Homo sapiens: one gene and its partners. The protein of the gene in region 3 interacts with the protein of the main gene of each other region in a biochemical or structural test. Each region holds a gene or a part of one and is shown on either strand. Other genes may lie near its edges.

Region 1 (7,027 bases), on a different chromosome or scaffold from region 3:
TTACTGAAGAGTAAAGACAGCGTTTCCCCATGACATTGGGACAGGAGTTAGCTCTTCTAAGTCTGCTGTCTTCATCTGCTTATGTAGATGGTAACTTACAGGCCTTAGCTTAGCACTTATGTGTCAGCCACTGTAATAAGCATTTATATGCACTATCTGTATTCTTCAAAAATGACCTTGTGAAGTAGGTATTATTATCCCCATTTTATGGGTGAGGAACTTGAGGCTCAAGGAAGTTAAGTAGCTTTCTCACAGTCACTCAGCTAGGAAGTGGCCAGATTCCAAGTCTAGGTGGGTCGTGGGAGCTGGGCCATCGACAGGGCAAAGGTGGGCTGGTTTCAGAGAAAAGCTAAAAGGACTGGTTCTTCTCCCCGCCAGGATTCCCCATTGAAAGCTGTGCAGATGTTGTGGGTTAATCTGATCATGGACACTTTTGCTTCATTGGCCCTGGCCACAGAGCCCCCTACGGAATCTCTGTTGAAGCGGCGCCCCTATGGCCGAAATAAGCCTCTGATCTCACGCACTATGATGAAGAACATCTTGGGCCATGCATTCTATCAGCTCATTGTCATCTTTATCCTTGTCTTTGCGGGTGAGCCACTTTGGGGGTGGGTAGCAGCTGGGGTCCTGGTTGGAGGTGGGGGCAGAGAAAGAAGGTAGCGTGAGAGCAAGTGCACAGGTCAGGAATAAGCGCAGCTTCACCTCCCAGTGCTTGCTGTGCTCCCGCTACACGGTGCATTATGCTACTATATGTACTCATACAGTACTCTTGAGTACAGTGTGTACTGTGTGTACTCAAGAATTTCACAAGGGAGGCTTTATTATTTCTTTCTTTCTTTTTTTTTTTTTTTTTTTCTTTTTGGAGACAGAGTCTCGCTCTGTCACCCAGGCTGGAGTGCAGTGGCGCTAACTCGGGTCACTGCAACGTCTGCCTCCCAGGTTCAAGTGATTTTCCTGCGTCAGCCTCCCAAATAGCTGGGATTACAGGCATGCGCCACCACACCCGGCTACTTTTTGTATTTTTAGTAGAGATGGGGTTTCATCATGTTGGCCAGGCTGGGCTCGATCTCCTGACCTTGTGATCTGCCCACCTCAGCCCCCCAGAGTGCTGGGATTACAGGCATGAGCCACCACGCCTGGCTTATTTCTTTTTTTACAGATTCAAAAAATTAACCTCAGGTCCCATAATGAGTACATAGTTGCAGTAAAATTCAAACCTATGATTGCCTGACTCCAGCGCACATAGTCTTACTACCATGCTGCACTACATGAGAGCAAGTATCAATGCAGCAAACTGAGAGAGAAGGTAAAATAAGTCAAGACCAGAACTAACATTTAAAATGTTTAATAACTAGTACAACAAAAAATTAGCCAGGCATGGTGGTGCACGCCTGTAGTCCCAGCTATTTGGGAGGCTGAGATGGAAGGATCACTTGAGCAGGAAGGTCCAGGCTGCAGTGAGCCATGATCATGCCACTGCGCTCCAGCCTGGGTGACAGAGTGAGACCCTGTGTCAAAAAAATAAATAACTAGTGCAGCTCAGATATTGATTAATTAGAATGGACACCAGCCATAAGCAAGCAGTATATCTGTACCAACACATTCTTACTCTTAGTTCAGACCACACTTAACCTCCAGTGCTTCTCCTCTCCCCACTAGGTGAGAAATTCTTTGATATTGATAGTGGGAGGAAGGCACCTCTACATTCACCACCCAGCCAGCACTATACCATTGTTTTTAACACCTTCGTGCTGATGCAGCTCTTCAATGAAATCAACTCCCGAAAGATCCATGGAGAGAAGAACGTCTTTTCAGGCATCTACCGCAACATTATCTTCTGCTCTGTAGTCTTGGGCACATTCATCTGCCAGGTGAGATTCTATCTGCAGTTGGGGCAGGAGATCTGGAATGATAAAGGGCAGAAGCTGGGAGCCAGGGTTCCCTACATACCTAGGAAAAGGAATGAAGGAATTACGGGGACTGGAGCTGTAAGTTGAACACTTTGGGATTCCCAATCTGCTTTCTTTTGCATATTGCTCTAGAATTGGAGCCCATTGTGTCAAGAGCTCCAGTGCAGGGCAGCATGTTGACTGGAAATAAAATAATACTTCTAAAATCCTTTCATGATCTTTCTAAATACACAGAAATTTCACAGAATGACCAAAAGAAGTATTCTCTTCTAGTCCCTTTCTATGGCTCCTGTCAGCCTATATGAAATGTGCATGCACATCTAGTATAGACTCTCCCTGTCCCTGCCCTTTGTTCTGAAGGGCTTATGATAAAAAGTGTTGTGCAACTCAAAGAAAGAGAAGTAATGGGATTTGTACATGTATATTACATAGTCAGCCCAGCTTGGACTCCTCCAATATGAGACTATGAGCTGATCATGTCCCATCCCTCAGCAGGGCACCTCCCTTTATTTGTCCCCATCCTCAATTCCTTTTTTTTTTTTTTTTTAATTTTAAAAATACAGATGGGGTCTCACTCTGTTGCTCAGGCTGGTCTCAAACTCCTGGCCTCAAGCAATCCTCCCGCCTCCCAAAGTGTTATTACGCCTGCCATTTTTTCTTTTTGTTTTTTTTTTTTTCGTTTGAGACAGATATCTCTCTCTCTCTCTCTCTCTCTCTCTCTCTCTCTCTCTCCCTCTGCCTCTCTCTCTCTCTCTCTTTTCCCCCCTCCCCCAGGGGGAGTGCAGCCTCAGTCTCCCAGGTTCAGGCAATCCTCCCACCTCATCCTCAGTTCCTAACTCCATCACTGTACCTTCTCCTTGTCACTAACTGGCTTTAGTCACAAGAAGCCACCAGCTCCCCTAACTCCTCCAGATTGTCTGTTAATCATAGTCACAGTAACTATGTCTGTCTCCCCATCAGAGTGCTCTTAAAGGCTGTTTTTGTCTGTCTCCCCTTTGAGATTTCTTCTTTTCCCTTCCCCTGCAAGCAAATCGGGACTTGTACCCAAGGATCCTGAGGAGTGGGATGATGTGGCTTTGGGGGCCTTGGCTGGAGGGCCAGCTGCCTGTTAGTCATTTCCTTGATGGTGGGCTGCCCCTTTCTCTGTTCTAGATTTTCATCGTGGAATTTGGGGGTAAACCCTTCAGTTGTACAAGCCTCAGCCTGTCTCAGTGGCTGTGGTGTCTCTTCATTGGGATTGGAGAACTTCTGTGGGGCCAGGTGAGTACCGGCACACCCTCCTGGTGCATTCTCACAGCCTGCAGAACTCCCCTCCTCTACATGAGATGGAACAAGCAACGGTGGAGACCCCCCAGCTCCTCATCTTCATCTTCTCCTCTTCCCTCCCCACCCCCACTCAAGTTTTCAAGTTCTTGCCATCTCATAGGATCTCAAGGTGGAATGATCACTTCAGAGGTTTCAGAATTCTTCTCTAACTAAGCCTGGAGGTAGAAAAATCCCTTAGCTTGGCTGGGCGCAGTGGCTCACACCTGTAATCCCAGCACTTTGGGAGGCCGAGGCAGGCAGATCACGAGGTCAGGAAATCAAGACCGTCCTGGCTAACATGGTGAAACCCCGTCTCTACTAAAAATACAAAAAATTAGCTGGGCATGGTGGCAGGTGCCTGTAGTCCCAGCTACTCGGGAGGCTGAGGCAGGAGAATGGCGTGAACCTGGGAGGTGGAGCTTGCAGTGAGCCGAGATTGCGCCACTGCACTCCAGCCTGGGCGACAGAGCAAGACTCAGTGTCAAAAAGAAAAAAAAAAGAAAAATCCCTTAGCTTCTCTGAGACAGAAACCAAACTTTTCAATGGAATTTTGCTACAAAAAAAAAATATATAATAAGGGTCTTAGAAGTAGAAGAGTTTACAAGACACATGTCTTTATTCTCATGAGGCAGCAACCTGGCTATGGGCTGTCGAGCTGACATAATTCAGGGTTTCCAGCCTCTTCTCTTTCTTGCCATGGCTTTATCTGGGTGGAATTCTTAACTCTTACCTGAGATAAATTCAGATTTACAAGATCTCTAGAGTAGCAGTATGGCCTGTGGTTCAGAGCATGGACTCTGGGAATGACTGCCTGGGTTTGAATCCAGCTCTCTGTTTTTTTTTTTTTTTTTTTTTTTTTCTGAGACAGAGTCTTGCTCTGTCACCCAGGCTGGAGTGCAGTTGTGTGATCTCGGCTCACTGCAAACTCTGCCTCCTGGGTTCAAGCAATTTCTCCTGCCTCAGCCTCCCAAGTAGCTGGGATTACAGGCAACCACCACCGCACCTGGCTAATTTTTGTATTTTTACTAGAGACGGAGTTTCACCTTGTTGGCTAGGCTGGTCTGGAACTCCTGACCTCGTGATCTGCCTGCCTTGGCCTCCCAAAGTGCTGGGATTACAGGTGTGAGCCACCGCACCTGGCCCAGCTCTTGTTGCCCAGGCTGGAGTGCAATGGTGCAATCTTGGCTCACTGCAACCTCCACCCTCCAGGTTCAAGCAATTCTCCTGCCTCAGCCTCCCAAGTAGCTGGGATTACAGGCACCCACCACCGCGCCCAGCTAATTTTTTGTATTTTTAGTAGAGACAGGGTTTCACCATGTTGGCTAGGCTGGTCTCAAACTCCTGATCTCAGGTGATCCACCCGCCATGGCCTCCGAAAGTGCTAGGATTACAGGCCTGAGCCACCGTGCCCAGCCTCAGCTCTCCTTTTTATAAGCTGAATCATCTTGGGCAAGTTACATAACCAATCTGTGTCTCAGTGTCTTCAGCTTAGGAAAACAAGGTCATTGTTAATTAGTGAATCAGTTACTATACAGTAATGAATAATGTCTTATTCCTTATAAATAATCAAATTTTAAACTATTACGATTATAATAGTATCATTAAGTCTAATAGTTTCACTTCTTCCTTAATACCACTTTACAAACCTCCCTCATCCTCAGCTCTGGCCTGGGCTATACCTCTCTTTACAGACCCCAGGTCTCTGCAGATAATCCCTTAGTGTCCAGCCACCCAGGTAATGGACACTTTGCCCTAACTGGCCTCAAAGAGCCATTTCTGGAGCTGCAGGCCTTCTCCCCTAAACCTGCTAGTTATTTATTTCATACCTAGATGCCTCCCTGAATAATTTCTTTTTCTTTTCTTTTCTTTTCTTTTTTTTTTTTTTTTTTTTTTAAGAGATGGGGGTCTCAGGCCAGGCGCAGTGGCTCACACCTATAATCCCAACACTTTGGGAGGCTGAGTCGAGCAGATCACCTGAGGTCAGGAGTTCGAGACCAGCCTGGCCAACATGGTGAAACCCTGTCTCTACTAAAAATACAAAAAAAAAAAAAAAAAATTGGCCGGGCATGGTGACACATGCCTGTAATCCCAGCTACTTGGGAGGCTGAAGCAGAATTGCTTGAACCCGGGAGGCGGAGTGCAATGAGCTGAGATCACGGCACTGCACTCCAGCCTGGATGACAAGAGTGAGACTCTATGTCGAAAAACAAAAAATAAAGAGATTGGGGTCTCACTATGTTGCCAGGCTGATCTCAAAGTCCTGGGCTCAAGCAATCCTCCTGCCTCGGCCTCCCGAAGTGCTGGGATTACAGGCATGAACCGCTGCACCCAGCCCTCCCTAATTAATGTCTGACCCAATTCCCTCCACCCTGTTCTGTTTGGTGAAGATTTCTTTTTTTTTTTTTTTACCAATGGGTTCCTAAAGCAGTTTTATGCTTTGGTAAAGCTTGGTTGTTAAACCTGTTGTTTGAAACTCTGTTCTGGCTCTTGCCTCACATGTGGCCATGTGGCCTTGCTGCCAGACAGCAGCCTTCCTTCTGTATCACAACAGCTTTTTCCACATTCAGAGGCAGAGCTCTGGCATTCTTCCCATTTCAAAACCCTTGACTCCATATCAGATTGCCCATACAGTCCCTCTTCCCCACATGAGCCCTGGCTACTCCTTATCTTGTCCGGAAAGAACTGACTGACAGGTGCTGAGCTCACCGGGAAATTTATTTCAAATTTCAAACCCTATGTACTGCTCCTTGTCTTCTGATAATACTCATGTGACCCCTCTTCTATGGACTGTCCCATCCACTTCCTCACCTCAAGCCCAAGAAAACTTTTGGTATCCTTTCACAAGAGTTTGTAACACAGAAACTACTTTGCATGTGGCAACTAAGAAAGGGGTCATTCATTTCCAATACCCTTCTCAACCCCTTGCCTATACATAGGCAATATCACCATCTTCTCCCCAAACTCTTTTCCCCCAGGTCCTGGTCTCTGTTTCTTCCTACTGCGTACCATGCTGTATAGTTCTGTTAACCTTAAAAGACAGATTGCAAAATGGAACAGAAGAAATGAGACAGAAAGAGGAAAATGAAGTATATGACCAGGCAGATGGCTGGTCAATTACTAGAATAGAAGCTCTCTTTTGTGTGTGTCCATAAATACAGAAAACCTTCCTAAAAGCCTGACCGCTGGTGGGCACTTGGAGAATGCTTGCCTGGATGGATTGGTGCTTCTGCCCACTGCTCTTCCAGTGGGAAGGGTGGTAGGGCAAAGAGTAACCTGCCCAAGGGCCTGGCTCATGTAAGTTGACTGACAGCTCTTCTCACGCTGATTCTGACGTCTTCCTCTTCGCTGCGCTTGTTTTCAGTTCATCTCCGCAATACCTACCCGATCCCTGAAGTTCCTGAAGGAGGCTGGGCATGGCACCACCAAAGAGGAGATCACCAAGGATGCCGAGGGACTGGATGAGATTGACCATGCTGAGATGGAGCTGCGCCGAGGCCAGATCCTCTGGTTCCGGGGCCTGAACCGTATCCAGACTCAGGTACTCTGATAGTGGTCTGTCCTTCCCTTGGGAGAAGCAGCTTCCCATCTTGGAAGGTGTTGGGAGGGTAGCAGTTCTTGTCGGCCAGCATCTCTTCCCTTCCAAAGGCTCACTACTGATGGGCAGCCCTAGATCCTCAGCTTCAGGACAGACACGCAAAAGGATCTGTGTGGGGTCCTCTGAGAGGAGAGGAGTCAAATGACCTAGACCATGGGACACTATTAGCATAGTCCTTTAGCTCTGGGTTGACCCTAAAGCCCAGCCTGCCACCCTC
Region 2 (7,027 bases), on a different chromosome or scaffold from region 3:
TACATAACCTTTACCCCCAAAAAAGTTTCCAAGTGCACCTTGGTAATTGCTCCCTCCAATCCCTACTCCCTCCCTGTAACTCCCTCTGTCCCCAGGCAATGACTGATCCCTGCTTTCTGTCACTAGATTAAGATTAGTGTGCCTTTTACTTTAGTTTAAATTACCTTATAATTTTACACGAACAGAATCATGCCTGGCTTCTTTCACGCAGCATCATTAATTTAGATTCATTCATAGCGTTGCATGTATCAGTAGTTGATCCTTTTTTGTTACTGAGTTGTATTTCTTTGTATGGATATGTTATGGCTCATTCATCTGTTAATACATGTGGAGTAGTTTTCAATTTGGGGCTATTACATTCATGCACAAGTCTTTGGACATAGGCTTTTATTTCTCTTGGGTAAATACTTTGAAGTGGAATGGTGGATCATATGGTAGGCTTATGGTTTTTTAGCTTTTTAAGAAACTTCCAAATGTTTGAGGGATGAATATCCCAATTACCCAGATTTGATCATTACACATTGTATGCTTGTATCAAAATATCGCAAGTACCCTATAAATATGTATAGCTACTGTGTATCCCCCAAAATAAAATATTTTAGAAAGGAACTTCCAAGCTGTTTTCCAAAATAGTTGTACCATTTTACATTTGCACCAGCAGTGGAAGGGAGTTCCAGTTGTTCCACATCCTTGCCAATACATGGCATGATCAGGCTTTTTAATTGTAGCCATTCTAATAAGTATGTAGTCCTATCTCATTGTAGTTTTAATTTGTGCTTCTCTAATGATCAACATTGTCAAGCATCTTTTCATATGCTTGTTGTCTTCATATCTTTCTGGGTAGTGTCTGTTCAAATCATGTATCTCTTTTTTAAAAGATTGAATTGTTGGCTGGGCGCAGTGGCTCACGCCTGTAATCCCAGTACTTTGGGAGGCCGAGGCAGGCGGATCACGAGGTCAGGAGTTCGAGACCATCCTGGTTAACACATGAAACCCCGTCTCTACTAAAAATACGAAAAATTAGCCGGGCGCGGTGCCAGGCGCCTGTAGTCCCAGTTGCTCGGGAGGCTGAGGCAGGAGAATGGCGTGACCCCAGGAGGTGGAGCTTGCAGTAAGCCAAGGTTGTGCCACTGCACTCCAGCCTGGGCGACAGAGCGAGACTCCATCTCAAAAAAAAAAAAAAAAAAAAAAAAAAAAAAAAAAAAAAAAAAGAAGATTGAATTGTTAATATTGAGTTTTCAGAGTTCTAGAAACAGGTCTATTATCAAATATACGCTTTGCAAATATTTTCTCTTAGTTAGTGCTTGCCTTTTTATTCCTTTAACAGTGTCTTTCAAAGACCAGAGGCTTAAATCTTGATGCGGTCTGATTTTTTTTTTATTATTATTAAGTGCTTTTTGGTGTGGTATCTGAGAAATCATTGTCTATCCCAAAAAGTCACAAAGATTTTCTCCTGTTTTCTTCTAGACATTTTAGAGTTTAAGTTTCACTTCAGTTTGTTTTTGTATAGGGTTACAATGTGTAGTTTGAAGATTATCTTTTTTACATATCCAGTTGTTACATCACCATTTGTTGAAGACTGTCCTTGCTCCACTAAATTGTCTTTGGACCTTTGTTGAAGCCAGTCGTCCATATATATGTAACTATTTCTGGACTCTGTTAGGTTCCATTGATCCGTTTGTCAGTCCTTGTGCCATTACCATACTGCCTTGATTATTGTAGCTCCCTTGTTTTTAAAAGTTTAATTAATATCCAAGTGATTCATGTATGATTAATATTACTACTAAGGCAAGAGGGCCACCCACTTCTATCACCTAGATGGAGCTTACCTCCACAGCCCCATTCTCCCCCGCTGCTGGCATGAGCTTTTCTCCAAGGCCTTCTCTTGCAGAGGAGGCTATGATGTCCAGCTGGCCCTTTTTTGGGAGTTTTGTCAAACACCGAAGAGCAAATACGGCCACTTCCCTAATCTGTGGGCACCCAGTGGCTTTGCAGGAGAAGGAGAACAGCTGAATAATTCTCTATTCCCACTCACCACTTCCCACTCTCCCTTTTACTCCTGTTCAACCTCCAGCTCACCCTACTTATCCAGGGCTGGGTTTGGGGAGTATCTGCTGTGATAGAGAATAATAACGCTAATTTGTGGGTGTTTATGAAGCACTTTCAAATGGAAACCAAGCTTCAGGAGGTCGGGGGGCAGAATACCCCATTTTATAGATGAGAAAACTGAGTGTCCTAGGAAGCTCATGAGCTGCCCAGTGTCTCCCAGCTAGGAGAGTAGAACCCTCCTTTACCCCAGGTCTTATGGCTCCACATCCGCCAGTCCTCCTTTTATACCTCAGGGACGAGTCCCAGGCTGTCTTCTCGATCTGCCTGGTAATTACTGTTTTTCAGCTGTAGGGCTTCCTTGTTCTGGGGCCCCAAGGGAGGAAGGTAATTACATCCTTCAAGATGCCCTTAGTCAGCAGCTCCAGGTCAGTTCCTGTGACCAAGCCCAGCTATGACCTTTGTCTGTCCTTTCCCCTTCCCAGGCCAGTGGCTTGGAGAGTGTGATTGGATCCCTCTGTTTCTCTCTTTGGTTGGTGCTGTTGGTGGCATCTGGCCAGCCCTTCCTTCACAGAGTGCCCATGAATTCTCTGTATTCAGGCAAATGGGTGCCCTCGGTCATAAGAAGGCACAGAGGGAAAGCTTGCAAATGTCTCACTGCCAGCCCTGCCAGCTATTAGAAAAATTATGGCACTGACTGGCAGGGTCCTAGGATGGGCCTCCTTGAAGAAAAAGCAGTCCTGCCTCTTAATAGGGTACCTGTGACTCATGAGCATCCATCTCATCTGCTCCCCACTTCTATCCCTGCTACCCGCAATCTGTTGGTCACACGTAGCCAGAGTTCCACAGGGCCTGTCTCTTTCACACGTATGCACAGCCCACTTACACATCTCAGAGGCTACATACTGCTTTTAGAAAACAGGAGAAGCCTTTATCATGGCCTTTGGGGCCCTGCAGAGTACCCCTGCCTGCCTCCCCGGCCTCGTCTCAAGCCAGCTCTCTCTCATGATCCCCTCTCCAGTCCTTCTGGCCTTCATTCTGTTCTTCCGACCTCACCATGTTTTCCACTTTCCACAGGGCCTTTGTGTGTGCCTTTCCCTCTGCTTGTACTGCCCTTCTCCCGCACCCCTTTGCCTGGTTAGTTCTTACTTACCCTTTAGGCCTTCAGGTCAACCATCACCTCCTCTGAGATGCCCTGTCCAGTCCTTCAGCAAAGTGGGGTGCCATGGTCATACACTCTTGGGGTTCCTTGTTATTTTCGTTCAGGACACTTTCATTGTGTGTAATTGTAGGTTTCTGTGATGATGATGATGATGATGATGATGATGATGATGATGATGATTTGAAACGGAGTCTTGCTCTGTCGCCCAGGCTGGAGTGCAGTGGCACAATCTTGGCTCACTGCAACCTCCCCCTCCCAGGTTCAAGTGATTCTCCTGCCTCAGCCTCCTGAGTAGCTGGGATTACAGGCGCCCGCCACCATGCCTGGCTGATTTTTGTACTTTTAGTAGAGACAGGGTTTCACCATGTTGGCCAGGCTGGTTTTGAACTCCTGGCCTCAAGCGATCCACCCGCCTCGGCCTCCCAAAGTGGTTTTGGTGATTATTTGATTAATGCCGGTCTTGCCCAGTGGAATGGAGGGTCCCTGCAGACAGGGACCACTTTGCTGGCCTTTTCTCATAGTGAAGTCTCTTTCCTTACCACTGTATCCTTAGTGTCACACATAATAGGTGCTCATTAAATATGTGTTAAATAAGGGACTCCATTTTAGTGGCACCTCCTCACCTGTCTAATACCAGACACTATCTGAAGTTTTACGTCCCTCCAGAAGCCTTCTGCCTCCCAGCCTTGCCTGTAGCTGACAATGCTTTTGCCGCCCCAAGCTCCCCAGTCCTTTCCTGTAAGCCACCCAGACTCTCATCATCCAGATCACCTGGGGATTTCACAAAGGGAAAGATTCTGATTTAGTAGGTTGGGGTAGGCGCTGAGAATGTACATTTTTAACAAACTTCCCTGAACCTCTGCTGCTGGTCAGGGACCACACTTTGGCCTGGCTTGAGAGGTAAGGGCACCGGGTCATAGCTGCTTGGCCAAATCACCATAGAAGACATGGTTCACACAGGGTCATGGCACTGGCCAATTGTAAGTAGGCACAGTAGTGTGCCCCTGCAGTCCCAGCTACTTGGGAAGCTGAGCTGGGAGGATCACTTGAGCCTGGGAGGCGGAGGTTGCAGTGAGCCGAGATCATGCCACTGCACTCCAGCCTGAGTGACAGAGCAACACCCTGTATCAAAAGTAAAAAAAAAAAAAAAAAAAAAAAAATCCCTTTAATTTCCGTCTTTCACTCCCTGCTCACCACAAATAACTAAAAAAGAAAGGAGGGGCCAGGCACGGTGGTTCACGCCTGAAATCCCAGCACTTTGGGAGGCTGAGGCGGGCAGATCACGAGGTTAGGAGATCGAGACCATCCTGGCTCACACAGTGAAACCACGTCTCTACTAAAAATACAAAAACAAAATTAGCTGGGCGTAGTGGCGGGTGCCTGTGGTCCCAGCTACTCAGGAGGCTGAGGCGGGAGAATGGCATGAACCCGGGAGGCAGAGCTTGCAGTGAGCCGAGATGGCGCCACTACACTCCAGCCTGGGCAACAGAGCGAGACTCCGTCTCAGAAAAAAAAAAAAAAAAAAAAAAAAAAAAAGAGGAGGAAAGGCAAGTTTTCTTTTTTTCCCCTGACTTTCTAATGTGCAAGGGAAGACCTGAGTGAATGAGGGGAGACAGCCTTTGTACTTTGTCACTCTTCTTTGGATCACTGTAGTCCTCATATCTGTGCCTAAAGAACTCTCATTGTCTTCCCCAGCCCTGTCCCCTCTCCACACCTCTGGGCTGAGTAGGAAGCCGATGAGTGGCTCCTGGACCTTTTCCAAGCACAACTGAAGTGACTGAAGTGCGGGCCCTTCCCATGGAATGCCACTCCCTGAAGAGCAGTACAAAGTTGGGGAACCCACCGGGGACTGGTGGGTGAGGCCCGCTCTGCCAGCTGGGAGTCCTCACGGGGCCTTTGTTGTCTTCTCCTGAGATCCCTCCCAGCACTCTCAGCTAGCAGTGCTCTGATCTCCTGGACCTCTGGATCTGGGAGAAATGAGGGGAGAGAGAGCTTTCCAAGTGTCTGAAAGTAGGAGGCCGGACTCTGCAGAAAGCAAGCACAATCCACATTTCCCTCTCTTTCTGCCCCTCCCCGTCCTGGCAGGTCCCTGGATGGCCGGTTGCAGGTGTCCCATCGGAAGGGGCTCCCTCATGTCATCTACTGCCGCCTGTGGCGATGGCCAGACCTGCACAGCCACCACGAGCTACGGGCCATGGAGCTGTGTGAGTTCGCCTTCAATATGAAGAAGGACGAGGTCTGCGTGAATCCCTACCACTACCAGAGAGTAGAGACACCAGGTATGCTGCCTGGCCTGCCTGTGGGGACAGCAGGTGCCAGGGGTCATCACCTCTCCCCGGCTCCCCATCCCCCCGAGGGTCTGCGGTGCACTTGGGGGTGCGGGGACTTTGGTGCTGGTCTGGCATCGACACTGAGCCACCTCTGCTCTGTCTCCCCCGGACAGTTCTACCTCCTGTGTTGGTGCCACGCCACACAGAGATCCCGGCCGAGTTCCCCCCACTGGACGACTACAGCCATTCCATCCCCGAAAACACTAACTTCCCCGCAGGCATCGAGCCCCAGAGCAATATTCCAGGTAGGCACGTGGGCGGCACAGGCTGGCCTGGGAGGCAGGGGCAGCGGTCAGCCCCGACATCAGTCCTGTGGCCCCAATCTCTGCCCCCTGGCCGTCCCCCGCTCACCCCCTCTTTGCGCACAGCTCTGGCCTGAGGGCCCCTGACTCAGAACCGCATCCCTGTTGGGAGAGGACCCATGACCTCAGCTCCCCCCTCACTAGTGATGCTTTTCTTGGCATAGAGGAGCAGCGTGACCCTTCCGCCCGGCCTTGGTGCAGTCATTTATTTTGGAAGCGGAAATAGCAACACTGTTTCTCTCACCGCCCTTGAGGCCCGGACTGGTGTTCAGTCCCAATAGACTGGGGGTCTGCAGAGGCGGGGAGTGAGCTGAGGGCCAGGCAGCAAGTGCGGAGAGCTGGCTCTGTAAATTCGCCTGGGCATCAGGCCTCGGTGAGGGGCTCCAACCTGGGTGGGAATTGAAGTGACTTTGAGTTTTCACTCTGCAGGGAGAAATGGGCTTTGCCGTCAAAGACTGCAAATGTTTTTAGAAGCCCCTCATTTACATGCAAATAACGTGTGAATCACCAGCACTTTCAGACTCCAGGAAAGCTGTGCTTGGCAGCACTTGGGCTAGTCACTTTTGCTTGCTGGGGCAGTAATCCTGCTGCGTTCCTCTTAGAGCATTCTAATTTGGACGTGACGTTCATCCTGGGTTAGTTTACTGGGCTGAGATTGGCTACAGGCCTGTGTGCTTGGGTCAGAGTGTTAAGGAGGAGACCCACTGTCCAACCTTCTCAGATCCTTTGCGGGTAGCCCTGGCGTCCCGCGGGTAAGTCAACTACTCCCTGTTCAAAGAGCAAATCTTGGAGGGCTTCAGTCAGGGTCTGGGGGAGGTTTCAGAGAAATAGATCACACTGTCTTTGCCGTCATTGAACTTGCAACCTAACTGCTGAGTGAGGACACGTCCCTTAGAGACAACAAATAATAACACCTGGTCTGCACAGAAGAAGATAGTAGGGACCAAAGGGTGGGTCTGAGCCTGCAGATCTTCAGAGGACAGAAAGGGGTGAGGCGGAGGCAAGTCTGGACGCCTCCCTGGAGGGGGTGGGGCTTAACCCTCACCTTGAAGGACCAGGATAAGTTAGCCTGGCAGAGGCTCTAGGAGTACACATTTCAGACTTGGGAGTTGATCCGGTCCTGCGTGAGCAAAGGCAGTTATGATCCAAGCGGGAGTCAGAGGTGGACAGGGGCGAGGACAACAGAA
Region 3 (7,027 bases):
ATAGCCACTTAAGAGTGTAAATATTTGTTTGAATTAGTTTCAAAGGGTACCTTTGTAAAAGGAGAGAGAAAAGATAGAAGTGCAACATAGTTTATTTCATTACAAACTGGTTTGTACATCTTTCAAGTTCCTGTAATTTCAGAGAAGTGTTGATGTTAAGTTGGAAGTTAAGAATAGTATATTATTGCTTTTATTTAAAATAAATGTCAACTACTAATTTGTGATTCATATAAAACTTTATTTTGAATTGTATTGTATTTAATTTGAACATGTGGGGAGTAATACAACGTACTGTTAGCATTTTGAATATTAATTTTCGGAGTTACAGTTATCTTAAAGTCTTACAAATATATGAGCAGTTTTGAAAAAGAATTTTTGTAATTATGGTAGTAATTATTATACATCTGCCAACATTTATTAGCTGACTTGTACTATATGAAAATTCATTATGTGAAAAAATAGAAACTCATTATTTGTATTCTGGCTTGTGGGTTTAAATTTATTGCAATTGCTTCTTAAAAATAGAAATGAAAAGACCAATGAGAAGGCAAAATAAGATAATAACTGATAATTATTTTATCTAGAAATCTGACTTTTAAAATTTTTTAGAAAATTAATATTTTTATTTTGTCAACATGTGAAAGCCCATAAATAATTACCTATTCCATAAGAATGTTTTAGACTGTTTTGAAAGCTTCCATGTAATTGATATTTTTCTAGTTAATTTTTCATTACTCCATTATGAACAGAACTATGAATAGACTGACCCAGCTGGAAAGACTGGATTTGGGAAGTAACGAATTCACGGAAGTGGTAAGTTCTCATCAGTCTCACTTTCCCTAAGTTCTTATATTTAATGAAGAACAAAATATGAAAATTAATGTATTTCTCTTACAAATTGGATAAAGGTTTACTTTTTTTTCTTAGTTACAAGATATGAAATTTCTTAGCCAGAACTTTCCAGACAGATAGAAAAATTAACCAGACAGATGAACTTCTGACCACAAGTGAGCATAAAATGTAAAATCAATGAGAGGTCCATGGAAGAGATACTAAACAATTTTTAGCATAGGAAGCAGAAAATTTGAGTGATTATAAGTGGGAAACATCAGTCTGGAATGCAGCAGGTAAAAGTAGTTCTGAATCAGAGAGAGCTCCATGGGGTATTGCTTGTTAACTTATTCAGTAATAAGATACTTCTCTATAATGTTACTTAATAGCTAAGGGGAAAATCATTGAGTGAAACAACTGTTATTTTTGAAGTGGTAATGAGAACCTTTTTGTTTGTGCTTTGTATGCCAAGTGCGCTATGAAGCTGACTCTAAAAGGAAAGGAGTAGTGTTTAAGTAGCTTTTGTCTTTAGTGAGTTTTCCAAAAGAACTCAGAAAATAAGCTAGATTTTTTTTTTTTTGAAGAGGAACTCATCCAGCTGAGTATCATTATTAAACTTTTAAATTAGTTTACAAGTTTGTTGTTTAAAAGTGTGGTAGCTCTCAAATGATGGTTTTAAGCCTAGGAATTTCTCAAAACTGCTTGCTATAGTATTGCCCTGTGGGTATTATATTAATATTATAAATTTCAGCTGAGGTTTGAGGAGGAACATGGTACTTTGGAGTACCTCATTCTCTAAAATACATGCTGTGCTTCCCAAATTATTTATCTGTTACGTCCTTTCTCAATATTTGTTCTGTATGAATCCGTTTCCGTATTAACTATTTCAAAAATCTCGTTCATTTTAAGAATCCAACAAGCTTTCAAAATCGTCATTAGTTTTTGTACCATTTTGGTCTTCCAACATTATACACTTTTTAAAACTTACAGTAGAATTTAACAGTAATGCACAAAAGGAAATTTCTTTTAATCCAAGTTACATCTGGGATTCTTATCTATATTTATATGTTAACAGTAAATCTGATTGGCATGCCTTTTATATATGACTGTTAACTATGGTCATTAGATGTGATAGTACTCTGTGCCATCACATGATCATTGATTGCAGATGGCTTTGTGAGGTGATAGAAATAACTTTGAAGAGGGCAGACTTGAAGGGACAATGCCCAGGAGCAAATTTTGCCTGGATATGAAGGTCTGCCACAACACTTGGATTAATTTTGATGTCCTCAACACCATATTATAAAGAATTTTCTACCATGTAATTAGAAGTTTTTACTAGAGGTTTAAATTACAGTATATTTGTATCATGTAGTTATGACTTTGTCTATTTACCTTTCCCTGATTATGGACATTTAGGATGCACGTTGTCTTTTATCTCCTTCTTAATGAATGTCACCAGGGAACATTTGTAATTTTTCTGTTTTCTAAAAGCTGTATCTTCTTACTGATAATGCATGAGTGCATATTTTTATTGTATACTTCTAAGCAGTGAGTCCTATTTTTTATTTCTTTACAAATTATATAAAAACTTGCCCCTGTTGTGTAATCCAAAGCTTAAATGTGTTTTTTGTAATCTACTGCTATGGCATGTCTCTTTGATTTCTCCATTAATAATTTTCTATAATAATTTTACTGTAGTAACTATAATGCAGTAGAAAGGCTTACATCCTGGCTCTTCTTTTTTATTTTTCCTTCTCCCTGCTCCTTTTATTTAATGATTTGAAACTAAAGGTTATTAGAAATTCCCAGGGCTTCTTTTGCCAGATAAAGACATTCATAAAAATTAATTGAATTACTGCTATCCCCTACCCTAATCCCAACAGCCTGAAGTACTTGAGCAACTAAGTGGATTGAAAGAGTTTTGGATGGATGCTAATAGACTGACTTTTATTCCAGGGGTATGTATATGAGATTTTAAATGGCATCACTTATTTCTGGCTCTCCTTTGCAGTTTTGTGAATTGTACCTTTTATAATTACTTTTAATTAATAAAAAAATTGAATTATTCTTTATTAAACAGAAGCAAATTACTTTTTTTCATGAGCACATTCTTGATTATAATCTAAGAATTCTCATAATAAACATTTGTATGTCTCCTTTTAATACTGTTGAGTGTGTCCTTTCCAATGGTATCACTTGAACTTACGTCCCAATTTGCTTTGCCCAAGGAATTGGTAAACTAGGATATTTTTCATGAACTTTCTGAATTTTTTTTTTTTTTTTTTTTGAGACAGAGTCTCGCTCTGTTGCCCAGGCTGGAGTGCAGTGGTGCGATCTCGGCTCACTGCGAGCTCCGCCTCCTGGGTTCACACCATTCTCCTGCCTCAGCCTCCTGAGTAGCTGGGACTACAGGTGACCACCACCATGCCCAGCTAATTTTTTTTTATTTTTTAGTGGAGACGGGATTTCACCGTGTTAGCCAGGATGGTCTCGATCTCCTGACCTCATTATCCGCCTGCCTCGGCCTACCAAAGTGCTGGGATTACAGGCGTGAGCCACCGCGCCCAGCCGAACTTTCTGTTTTAACAACTGACAAATTGTTTACTCCCATAAAAAAAACCACAAGAATCCCCATATATGCTATTTCCTTAGGAGGTAATGGATACCTGAATTCCCAAAGAATATGTCCTTTGTCACTTCTGCTATGCTACAATTAGTAGAACATCTTAGCTATATTACTGAATACATTTCTAATGGCATTTAAAAAACTACCTGGGAGTCTTCTTTCTTGTATTAGCATTTAATTTTGAATTAAAACTTGGTATCAAGTTTATTCCCTAAACTTTTTACAAATTACTAATGTTAATAGAGTCATTAGATTTTCTTTTTTTACTTATAGTTTATTGGTAGTTTGAAACAGCTCACATATTTGGATGTTTCTAAAAATAATATTGAAATGGTTGAAGAAGGAATTTCAACATGTGAAAACCTTCAAGACCTCCTATTATCAAGCAATTCACTTCAGCAGCTTCCTGAGACTATTGGTTTGTATTGCTTTCAAATTCATGTAATTTTTATTAAAATAAATTCGAGACTTCCACATAATCTCAAATTTCACTTGTTATGAGGTAGTTATACTTCGTTACCACAGGAACGGATTTTATTTGAATTTTTCCTGGTGTGATCAGTTGTACAGTTTGCTCCTTTGTTGACATTACTGTTTTTTATTTACTCTAAGGTAATCTCATTTTTATTTCTAATATATTTAAATTCTTTAAAATAAGTTAACTTATGCAAATTTGGCTTAACTGTTAGCTTTTATTGTCATAGCTTTTATTTTGGTAACTTTTTTCAGTCCTGTTTCATTACAGACACTCAGACAAGAAAACAGATCAGTTGAACAGATCATGAGAGATCTATGATTGAGTCTGTGTAGTTGCTTGTTCAATGATATGTCAATGGAATTGAATTATTTTGATGAAAGGACCCAAAACTTCAATCTTGACATCTTTTTGATGTTTTAATTTAAAAACCAAAAATATTTCTCAGTTAAATCACGTAGTGGTTTTAGCTAAAACTACATTTTTGTAAGTTTGTTACGATTCTACTCTTAGTCAACACTTTTTAAACTTAAAAAATATTTTACTGTTTTAGTATTTAGTATATATGGAATAGTTTTTTATATACCTGTTATGAACTACCTTCATACTACCATTTCTTTAGTCTATTAATTTAACAAGTTTGTATTGTCTGTCTTTTCTGTGCCATGACATTGTTTTTAGAAGCAGAGCTACAACAGTGAACAACGAAGACAAAAAAGTTCCTACTATCAGTATATTTTAGTGGGAGTTAATAAACAAATGTACACTATGTTAAATAGTGATGTGGATGAAGATTGAAAGGACAGGATGAGGGAATAGAACATTGGGATTGGGAGTGGTATCTCTTTTAGATACGTTTGTTAGGAAAGTTGTTTCTAATTCTTGTCAGATGTAGTATGTCTCACACTGACTGTTGGTGGACTTGCTTCTATTTTAAGCTGAAAAATTGTATGTTGTTTCTTCCCTCATTAGGTTCGTTGAAGAATATAACAACGCTTAAAATAGATGAAAACCAGTTAATGTATCTGCCAGACTCTATAGGAGGGTAAGTTTTTTGTGAATGTATACACCCTCGAAGATTTTACTTTCAGTTCAGCATGCCATACATATTTTCAGGTATTTGCATAAATGACCTAAAGATTTTGTAAACATTTAAGTAATTAGTATACAGGTTGAGTGTGTTTATGATAGACAAACCTACTTATTGGTGAAGTTTAGCTTTGTGAAATGGTTTCACTAGGTTTTCAAAGTCAAGTTCAAATGTTTATATGTTCTGAAATTTTGGATTATATATAGGAAATCTTTAACAAATAATATATATTTCTTTTTTTAAATTAAAGGTTAATATCAGTAGAAGAACTGGATTGTAGTTTCAATGAAGTTGAAGCTTTGCCTTCATCTATTGGGCAGCTTACTAACTTAAGAACTTTTGCTGCTGATCATAATTACTTACAGCAGTTGCCCCCAGAGGTAATGTATTTTAGATTTGTTTAGATTTTTGTCTTTTCATTTTTTTCTGATTATCTTCATTATAGCTATTTAGTGTGGCTTCATTTATTTTCTTTCTAAAATAGTTTTCAAGTTATTTATTTTCTGAATAATTAGCTATGTTAATTTAGAAGAGGTTCTTAAATGCTTTCTTATGTACATAAAAATTAATTAAAAAGAAAGTCTAGTCATTATTTCTTCTATAAATGTGAAGTATTTTTCATAACTTTCAAAAATGATGTTTTTTATATGTTGATCAACCTGTAGGCCAAATTTTTTGATACTCAGTTTATATTTCTCTTTCAGATTGGAAGCTGGAAAAATATAACTGTGCTGTTTCTCCATTCCAATAAACTTGAGACACTTCCAGAGGAAATGGGTGATATGCAAAAATTAAAAGTCATTAATTTAAGTGATAATAGGTTCGTAATACTATATTCATCAGTTGGTTTATAGGAGACATTGGTTAGATGAAATTAAGTTTCATATGATATATAATAGAATAGCTAGTGCTTGTTGCTCTTTAAATATACATAGTAAGTTCTCAGTGTTATTGATAGGCTCTTGGAAAGTGTGACTTTCAGTGAAACAACATACAATGAAATCACTTCTTTCGTTCATCAGTGTTATAAGAAAATGACATTATTTGAGAACCTGCCATACACAGTTTTGCTAAAAGTTTTGGTTTCCAAGAACCTATCAATAACTTAAATGAGGACTTAACTGTATATATTTTTTTCTTTAAATACAAAGAGTGGTCTTATTTTATCTGATGTTAATTTATCATACGGTGGTTGTTACTGTTCATTTTGGGTTGACTTAGCTATATAGTCTTTATTCTCTTCTTACAGTTACCTTTTATTTCTGAAGTCACATCTTCACCTGAATATTGCTATTTAACAAAACAATTTTGGAATGTATCTAGTCTGTTGCTAATATTTTCCTAGGCAGAGATCTGGTTTCAACAAAGCCAAGGTGCAGAGTAAATTGATCACTAGGGTTGTAAATTGGAACAATGTTTAAGTTAAAAACAGAATGTCCATACTTTTTCGTGAGGTAAACATACTAATGATGATTAAACAGCATTTGTAGAGTGTTTTCACTTTTTGCTTTCATAGTGTCTTGTGAAGTCTTCAAAACAGCTCTATGAAATAGTATAATAGTATTCCCATTTTATGTAGGAGGGTTTTAAGACTCAGATTTAAGGTGACTCACGTAGCTTGTAAGGTAGAGCTTTAATTTAAACTCAATTTTCTGACTAATTATGATATTCTAACTTCTGTTTTATTTAAAAGAACCACTGCTTTCTTAAGTCACGTTTCAGCCTTTAATTCCTACGGCCCACAGTGGGTTGCTGAAAGAAAGGCACGGAAGACTAGTTAGGTATAAGATAGCAAGGCTGAAGTAGATAATTCTCTCTTAAATAAGATATTTTCATTTAGTATTCTAATGAGTATTTATAGTTGACCCTTGTATTTGTGGGTTCTGCAAGTGTGGATTCAAACAACTTCAGATCAGAAATATTTGGAAAAAAATTGTGTCAGTACTGAACGTGTACCAACTTTCCCATTGTTATTCCCTAAACAATACAGTATACCTACTAT
Region 4 (7,027 bases), on a different chromosome or scaffold from region 3:
AGTATATAATATATATTATACATAATATATATAATATATATATAATATATAATATATATTATACATAATATATATAATATATATATAATATATAATATATATTATACATAATATATATTATATATATAACATATATTATACATAATATATATTATATATATAACATATATTATACATAATATATAATATATAATATATATTATGTATAATATATAATATATATTATACATAATATATATAATATATTATATATATTATACATAATATATAATATATATTATATAATATATATAATATATATTATACATATTATGTATAATATATATAACATATATTATACATAATATGTATATAACATACATAATATATATTATACATAATATATATAATATATAATATATATTATACATAATATATATAATATATAATATATAATATATATTATACATATATATAATAATATATATATACTATATATAATATATATATGAGAGTGTGCACATATATGTACAAATGTGTATGTGTATGGTCCCTTCATAACCATGAGTTCAGCATCTGCAGATTCAACCAACTGCAGATTGAAAATAATCGGGAAAAAATGAAAATAACAATACGACAGTAAAAACTAATACAAATTGTATTTATTTTTATTTATTTTTTGAGACAGAGTCTTGCTCTGTCGCCCAGGCTAGAGTGCAGTGGCGCAATCTCGGCTCACTGCAACCTCTGCCTCCTGGGTTCAAGCAATTCTCTGCCTCAGCCTCCTGAGTAGCTGGGACTACAGGTGCATGCCACCACACCCAGCTAATTTTTGTATTTTTAGTAGAGATGGGGTTTCACTATGTTGCCCAGGCTGGTCTCAAACTCCTGGCCTCAAACGAATCACCCACCTTGACCTCCTAAAGTGCTGGGATTACAGGCGTGAGCCATCGTGCTGGGCCCAAATTTTAAAATACAGTATAACAAATATTTGTATAGCATTTATATTATTAGGTATTATAAGTAATCTAGAGATTATTTAAAGTATACAGGATGACGTGAATTTAAGTTACATGGAAATACTACACCCTTTTATGTCAGGGACTTGAACATCTAAGGGTTTTTAGTTAGGGGGAGCCGGTCCTAGAACCAATCCCCTGTAAATGCCAAGGGATGACTATATATATATATATATATATACATACATTTCTGTATTACTATTATTATTTTTGCCCTCATTTTACCCTATTTCACAATTTCTCTTCGGTTGTTACATGTTTGGAATTTATTCTACAAAATTGTGAGGTTTTTTTCTTTTGCAGTATTCCTTATGATATGTTTTAGTCAAACTGCAGAAGCTAAATATATAGTTTTCCAGTGAAATAAGTAGTCTTTTGACTCTATGGTCTGTTTCTACTTGCATGATCTTTGTGTGTTACTGCTTTCTGGTTCTTATGTATGAGTGGGTTTTCTCTTTTTGTAGCTAGGGTATCTCACCAAGAGTTTGATGTTAAAATAGACAAATGTCAAAAATATGTCATATTTTGTATCCTTTTATTATTACTGTTTTTCTTTGTGTGGCTTTTGACTCATTAATCTTTGCTCTGGCTTTATCTTACCCCACTTTAGCTTTTTTATGTGCTTTAGAAATGCACCAAGTATGGCAAGTTGACTGACTTTGCCTATGATTGTTTTGTATTTGAACAGGAGCTAGACTAAAACTACTGGTAAAACAAAGAATCCAACATAAAGTGATTTAATGACATGGGAGAAATTTGAAAAAATCTGGTATGATCTATGAAACTGGAGTTTTGTGTGAAAAATACTGAAAATCTGGTATCATCTGTGGAAACCGATACAGATACTATGTCTACTTCCTGAGCTTTTGCCAGTGCAGGCTGGCATAGAGCATGTAAAGATGATTATATTAAATCTATTTTTGGCTTGAATTGTTCACGCATTTCTTCCTTTTATTATTTTTTTATTTTTTTCTTTTTCAGATTTACAGCCAGTTACTTACTCAGAACCTGCATTTTGGTGTTCGATAGCATATTATGAATTAAATCAGAGGGTTGGAGAAACCTTCCATGCATCACAGCCCTCACTCACTGTAGATGGCTTTACAGACCCATCAAATTCAGAGAGGTTCTGCTTAGGTTTACTCTCCAATGTTAACCGAAATGCCACGGTAGAAATGACAAGAAGGCATATAGGTATGTTTTATTTTCCTTGTTGTGAAAAATAAATGCTGTATACTCATAATGTAGGCATTGCATGGTGTGCCACATCAAGAGCTTGTGTGCAGTAAAACCAGCTTTCTCTCTGGTGGTTTAAGTGCCGACACATTTAAGTGCACAGGCTTCACTGCTTCTAATAGATCCTGGTGATGCTTCAGCTGCAAACTCTTCAACTTTTATTTGGCACCCTTGGTACTGGAAAGTTCTTCAATAAATATGTGTTAAGATAAGTTTAATTTGCTGAGTCTCTACCAGTCATAAAATTGCCATGTTCAGATTTGGGGGTTAATACTTTTTTATAAATCATGTTTTTTTGTTTTGTTTTGTTTTTGTTTTTTTTCAGTTTCTTTATATAGCTCCCAGGTTTTTTCCCCCTTTGGTGAGTTTATATATTAAATGAAATCTGCTTGCTGTTCATCTGAAATGAGATATCTAAAACAAGAACTGCATTTAATATAGTTCAAAATATAATTCAGGGACATCTCAAAATGTGGTCTGGGGACTTCTGGTAGTCCCAGAAACCCTTTCAGCTAGTTTGTGAGGTCAAAGCTATTTTCATAGTAGTACTGAGATGCTGTTTGCCATTTCTACTCTCATACTCTCATGACTGTACAGTGGAGTATTCCAGAGCCTACATGCATATGATTTTGCAAGAGATGAAATGTAGATTTGATAATGAGACTCCAATTCTGTTACACTAGACATGAATGTTGAAATGTTGCCACTCTATTTTTTTTTTTTTTTTTTTTTGCTTTGGAAATATAGTTGTTTTTCATAGACAAAAATGGTGAAATGTTGCCACTCTATTTTTTTTTTTTTTGCTTTGGAAATACAGTTGTTTTTTATAAACATTGTTAATATGTAATGGATTTGATTTTTAAATGAATTTTTTAAATCTCAGTTTTTATATCTAATATGGTCATTTTCCATAATATTCACATAAACAAAAGCTCTTTGGGGTCCTCAGTATTTCCTTAACGATGAAGTGAAAAAGTGTGAGAACCATTCATAATTGAACATCATTCTCATCACCTTAAAGTAACTTCTTTTAACAGTAGTTTGCTTCTGTTTTTTTTCTAATTAACCATTACCTCCTGTGAGAAGTAATGCTGGTTATCAAAGTGTGATTTTGATACTGCAAAATGATAGTGACTAGAAGATCTATTACTTGGTTCCAAGTGGAAGTTCTCAAATCTTGCTTGATGTATAAATTTGGATAATCTTATTAAGATACCCAGTGTCGCTGTAGGTGCTTTAACTAAAATAGTTTTTTGTTTTTGTGACTTAATTGGGGTTCTGCAAAAAAATTTAATGGGTTTTCTCTGCCTTATTCTCTTCTCCCTCCAAAGTTTTAGATTGCTGTCGTTATTGGATTTTTTTAAATTTTTTATTTCTAGTTTTATAGGTGATATTGATCAGGGAATATAGCCTGAAAAATCTCTACTTTTTGGACTTAGTGTTTTCCCAATGACCACGTGCATGACTGTTTTACAGATATTCCATAGTCTTAACAGAACCACCGTACCAGGTTCTGTATTAAATCTGGAGTGTTAGTTGTTTGATTAGTTTTCTTTTGCTGTGTAACAAATTACCACAAACTCAGTGGCCTAAAACATCAGTTTTTTACCTCACGGTTTCTGTGGGTCAGGAGTCCAGACATGGGTTAGGCGGTCTTTTCAGGGTTTAACAAGGCCAAAATTGAGGTATCAGCTGGCTTGTGTTCTTATCTGGAGCTTGAGGTCCTCTTCTAAACCCACATGGTTGTGGCAGAATTCAGCTCCTAGATGCCTCCTGAATTCCTTGTCACATGGTGCCATCCATCTTCAAAGTCAGCAATGGAGAATGTCTCTTGTGTTGAATACCTTTCATGCTTTGAATCACTTAGCCTATGACAGTCTAGTCCCTTTTAAAGGATTGCCTGATTAAGGTTAACTGATTTGCTGCCTTAATTACATCTGAAAAAATCCTTAACAGCAGCACCTAGTGTTTGATTAACAGAGAATGTATGTGCACCTCAGGGCTGAGACTCTTAGGTGTCATGTTAGAACTCTGCTTCTCACAATTTTTTTTTTAATTCTTATATCTCATATTATTTTGCATCTGTGATCTCTCAGATTCTGAAAGAAGTATATTAAAAATCTCCCAGTAGAATTTTTTCTCACCTAATCATGCTTATACATCTAGAGGTTGGGTTTCCACCATAATATATAGTTTTTAAAATGGCAAATGACTTTTTGATGTTTTTACATCTTTTTTCTTAACATTAAGTGGGATCTCTAAGAAACTACAGTTGTAATGAAGATATATTTCTCCAAACATTAGTGAATTCCTTCAAAATTAACTCAATCTTTTACTTATCTTAATATATATCATTTGTATGAAACTATTTTACTATGTGTACTTTTTCTACATTGTTTAAATACTTTCAGTCAGTACACATGTATTTTAAAATCAATAAAATTATTGTTAGAAAATACTTGGGAGAAATATACAGTAGTATATTTAAAGTTAGACTTCAGAAAGACATTATCTGTGAAAAAGATCCTGGAAATACCTTATATCATTTTAGAATTTTTCCAAGAAAATGCTTCCAAAGTCACACTGAAATAGTAAATGTTACAAAACTAATCTCATTTGTATTTTGTTTCAGGAAGAGGAGTGCGCTTATACTACATAGGTGGGGAAGTTTTTGCTGAGTGCCTAAGTGATAGTGCAATCTTTGTGCAGAGCCCCAATTGTAATCAGAGATATGGCTGGCACCCTGCAACAGTGTGTAAAATTCCACCAGGTATGGATTCAATAATGTACATAAACCTATCATGTCAACTTGCTTAGTTTTTCTTGTTGCTAATTTTAGGAATCAGTAGATGATTGCATGCTCATATTCTAAAACTTGTAACCCTTTTAAAATTACTTTTTAATAATGATACTCTTTTGACAATTTCTTTTACCTTTTTTAATCATAGGCTGTAATCTGAAGATCTTCAACAACCAGGAATTTGCTGCTCTTCTGGCTCAGTCTGTTAATCAGGGTTTTGAAGCCGTCTATCAGCTAACTAGAATGTGCACCATAAGAATGAGTTTTGTGAAAGGGTGGGGAGCAGAATACCGGTATGAAATACATATTTGGTTCTTAAATTTCCACAGTGTAATTATGTTTCATTGCATTCTTGCATATTCTGGAGTTCATTTGTATCTATTTTCAATGAGGTTATAGAGTCAGCTGATCTTTATGTAAAATAAAGTTGGAGGCCTCCAAATTCAAAACTGTTGCAAATTACTGAGCTGCCATTATGGAAGATATTAAAACATGCACAGGCGTGCATTTTAACGTAATTCAGAGTGTTAAATATCATAAAAGGGGTGTATATGAAGGGTTATGTCAGTTTATGGAAGGAGAGATGTTTGCACACGGTGCTCAAGGAAAACTTGATGGCACATGATCTAGTTGTAAAAGGTGCATTGGATTTCAATAGTCATAAATGGGGTGGGCAGAGTTGGGAAGTGATAATCTTGACAATAGCATAGCAATTCAGTTTGGAGAATAGAAAAATAAGGCTGGACAATTAAATTGAGACAAACTAGATGTAGGTTAAGAGGAGGAACTTCATTCAGAAGTAGAAGGAATACTTGCTAATGTGCCAGGCACTGTGCTGTTTTAAGTGTAGTATCTAAAAATTATTATTTCTGTTGTCAATTCATTCTTTGTAAGGTTGAAATATATGAAATTGCCATCGTTGCAGGTAACACATGGTTCAAACTAATACATATTTGGAAATAGACATAGAAAGCTGATAATTTGCCCAAGGTTACATTATAAGTGGTTGAGATGGGACTGGAAGATAGTTCTCCTGGACTCTTTACCTCTTTTATAAGGATAGTAGTAACAATTATGTTTAAGTTTTACAAAAACTAATTTGTCATCAGTGGATAAGATAGTCTAGATTATTGATGAATTAAACAATAGATTGGATTTCACATCAAAGAGAGAGAAGACTTCTTGACCATATTTAAGAGTAGGAATTAAGTAAAATACTTAGTCTTTCTTCAATTCGTATTGCTTACTCCATATGCCTGCTTAAGAAATATTCATGTAATATAGTGATTGTATTCCTGCTTCTTCCAGCAATTTAGTCCCTTCCAAATTTATTTGTTTTGGACTTGCTTGTCTATCTTAAGTTTTGTCAGAAATCTGATTTGAGATTGTGCAATGTGAGGTCTACTTGTTGAATACATTTAAAAATATATGGTATATATTTGTATCAGAGAATGAAGACTTGTCACTATTTTTTTCTGAGTTATATTGGTAGAATAATTCATTTTGTGATTTTGCTGTAGTTCTGTTTTGATTATTACCCTTTTGAGATGTTGTTACCTGTTAAGAATGCTGAATGCCGTTTTTTAAAATTAGACTTGACCTGAGTTGATAGCAAAATTAGATTTAAATTATATTGTCTAATAAGATTTCAGGTCAGACTTTTTTTTGTTCTTCAGAAGGTTAGAATAATGCAAAATATGGTAGGAATTTAGTGGAAGTAAGAGTGAATTACAGAGAGAATTCCATGTGTATCTATAGATCTGCTAAGAACAGTTTTACTTGGTAAAGATACTGCCCTTCTTCATTCACTGTGGACTCTGCTGTTCTTTAACTCACAGATAAAGTAAAATCTGTAATTACAGAAGCAGTAATATGCAGTATGTTTTTATGAGTATTGGGAGTCAGGTACATCTGACTTTGGAAAATCAAGTAGTTTCCTGTAACATTTACAAATCAAAATGGCAAATATCCATCTATCTGTGGATATGTGGGT

What was found.
Region 1: the proteins of ERBIN (region 3) and ATP2B4 interact in a test that uses a peptide from one of them, tested with the Homo sapiens proteins (2 studies listed by BioGRID and IntAct).
Region 2: the proteins of ERBIN (region 3) and SMAD3 form a complex in vitro, tested with the Homo sapiens proteins (2 studies listed by BioGRID).
Region 4: the proteins of ERBIN (region 3) and SMAD2 form a complex in vitro, tested with the Homo sapiens proteins (2 studies listed by BioGRID).

What each region holds. Positions count from the first base shown.
Region 1 is NC_000001.11:203,720,819-203,727,845, forward strand, and holds part of ATP2B4 (plasma membrane calcium-transporting ATPase 4), read left to right. Parts: intron 1-378; coding exon 379-592; intron 593-1,659; coding exon 1,660-1,871; intron 1,872-3,062; coding exon 3,063-3,170; intron 3,171-6,576; coding exon 6,577-6,753; intron 6,754-7,027. UniProt on the Homo sapiens protein: Calcium/calmodulin-regulated and magnesium-dependent enzyme that catalyzes the hydrolysis of ATP coupled with the transport of calcium out of the cell. By regulating sperm cell calcium homeostasis, may play a role in sperm motility.
Region 2 is NC_000015.10:67,159,602-67,166,628, forward strand, and holds part of SMAD3 (mothers against decapentaplegic homolog 3), read left to right. Parts: intron 1-5,293; coding exon 5,294-5,487; intron 5,488-5,651; coding exon 5,652-5,783; intron 5,784-6,559; exon of another isoform or gene 6,560-6,592; intron 6,593-6,929; exon of another isoform or gene 6,930-7,027. UniProt on the Homo sapiens protein: Receptor-regulated SMAD (R-SMAD) that is an intracellular signal transducer and transcriptional modulator activated by TGF-beta (transforming growth factor) and activin type 1 receptor kinases.
Region 3 is NC_000005.10:66,020,573-66,027,599, forward strand, and holds part of ERBIN (erbin), read left to right. Parts: intron 1-749; coding exon 750-813; intron 814-2,717; coding exon 2,718-2,792; intron 2,793-3,733; coding exon 3,734-3,878; intron 3,879-4,907; coding exon 4,908-4,980; intron 4,981-5,275; coding exon 5,276-5,405; intron 5,406-5,729; coding exon 5,730-5,845; intron 5,846-7,027. UniProt on the Homo sapiens protein: Acts as an adapter for the receptor ERBB2, in epithelia. By binding the unphosphorylated 'Tyr-1248' of receptor ERBB2, it may contribute to stabilize this unphosphorylated state.
Region 4 is NC_000018.10:47,843,640-47,850,666, reverse strand, and holds part of SMAD2 (mothers against decapentaplegic homolog 2), read left to right. Parts: intron 1-1,979; coding exon 1,980-2,192; intron 2,193-4,866; coding exon 4,867-5,004; intron 5,005-5,182; coding exon 5,183-5,327; intron 5,328-7,027. UniProt on the Homo sapiens protein: Receptor-regulated SMAD (R-SMAD) that is an intracellular signal transducer and transcriptional modulator activated by TGF-beta (transforming growth factor) and activin type 1 receptor kinases.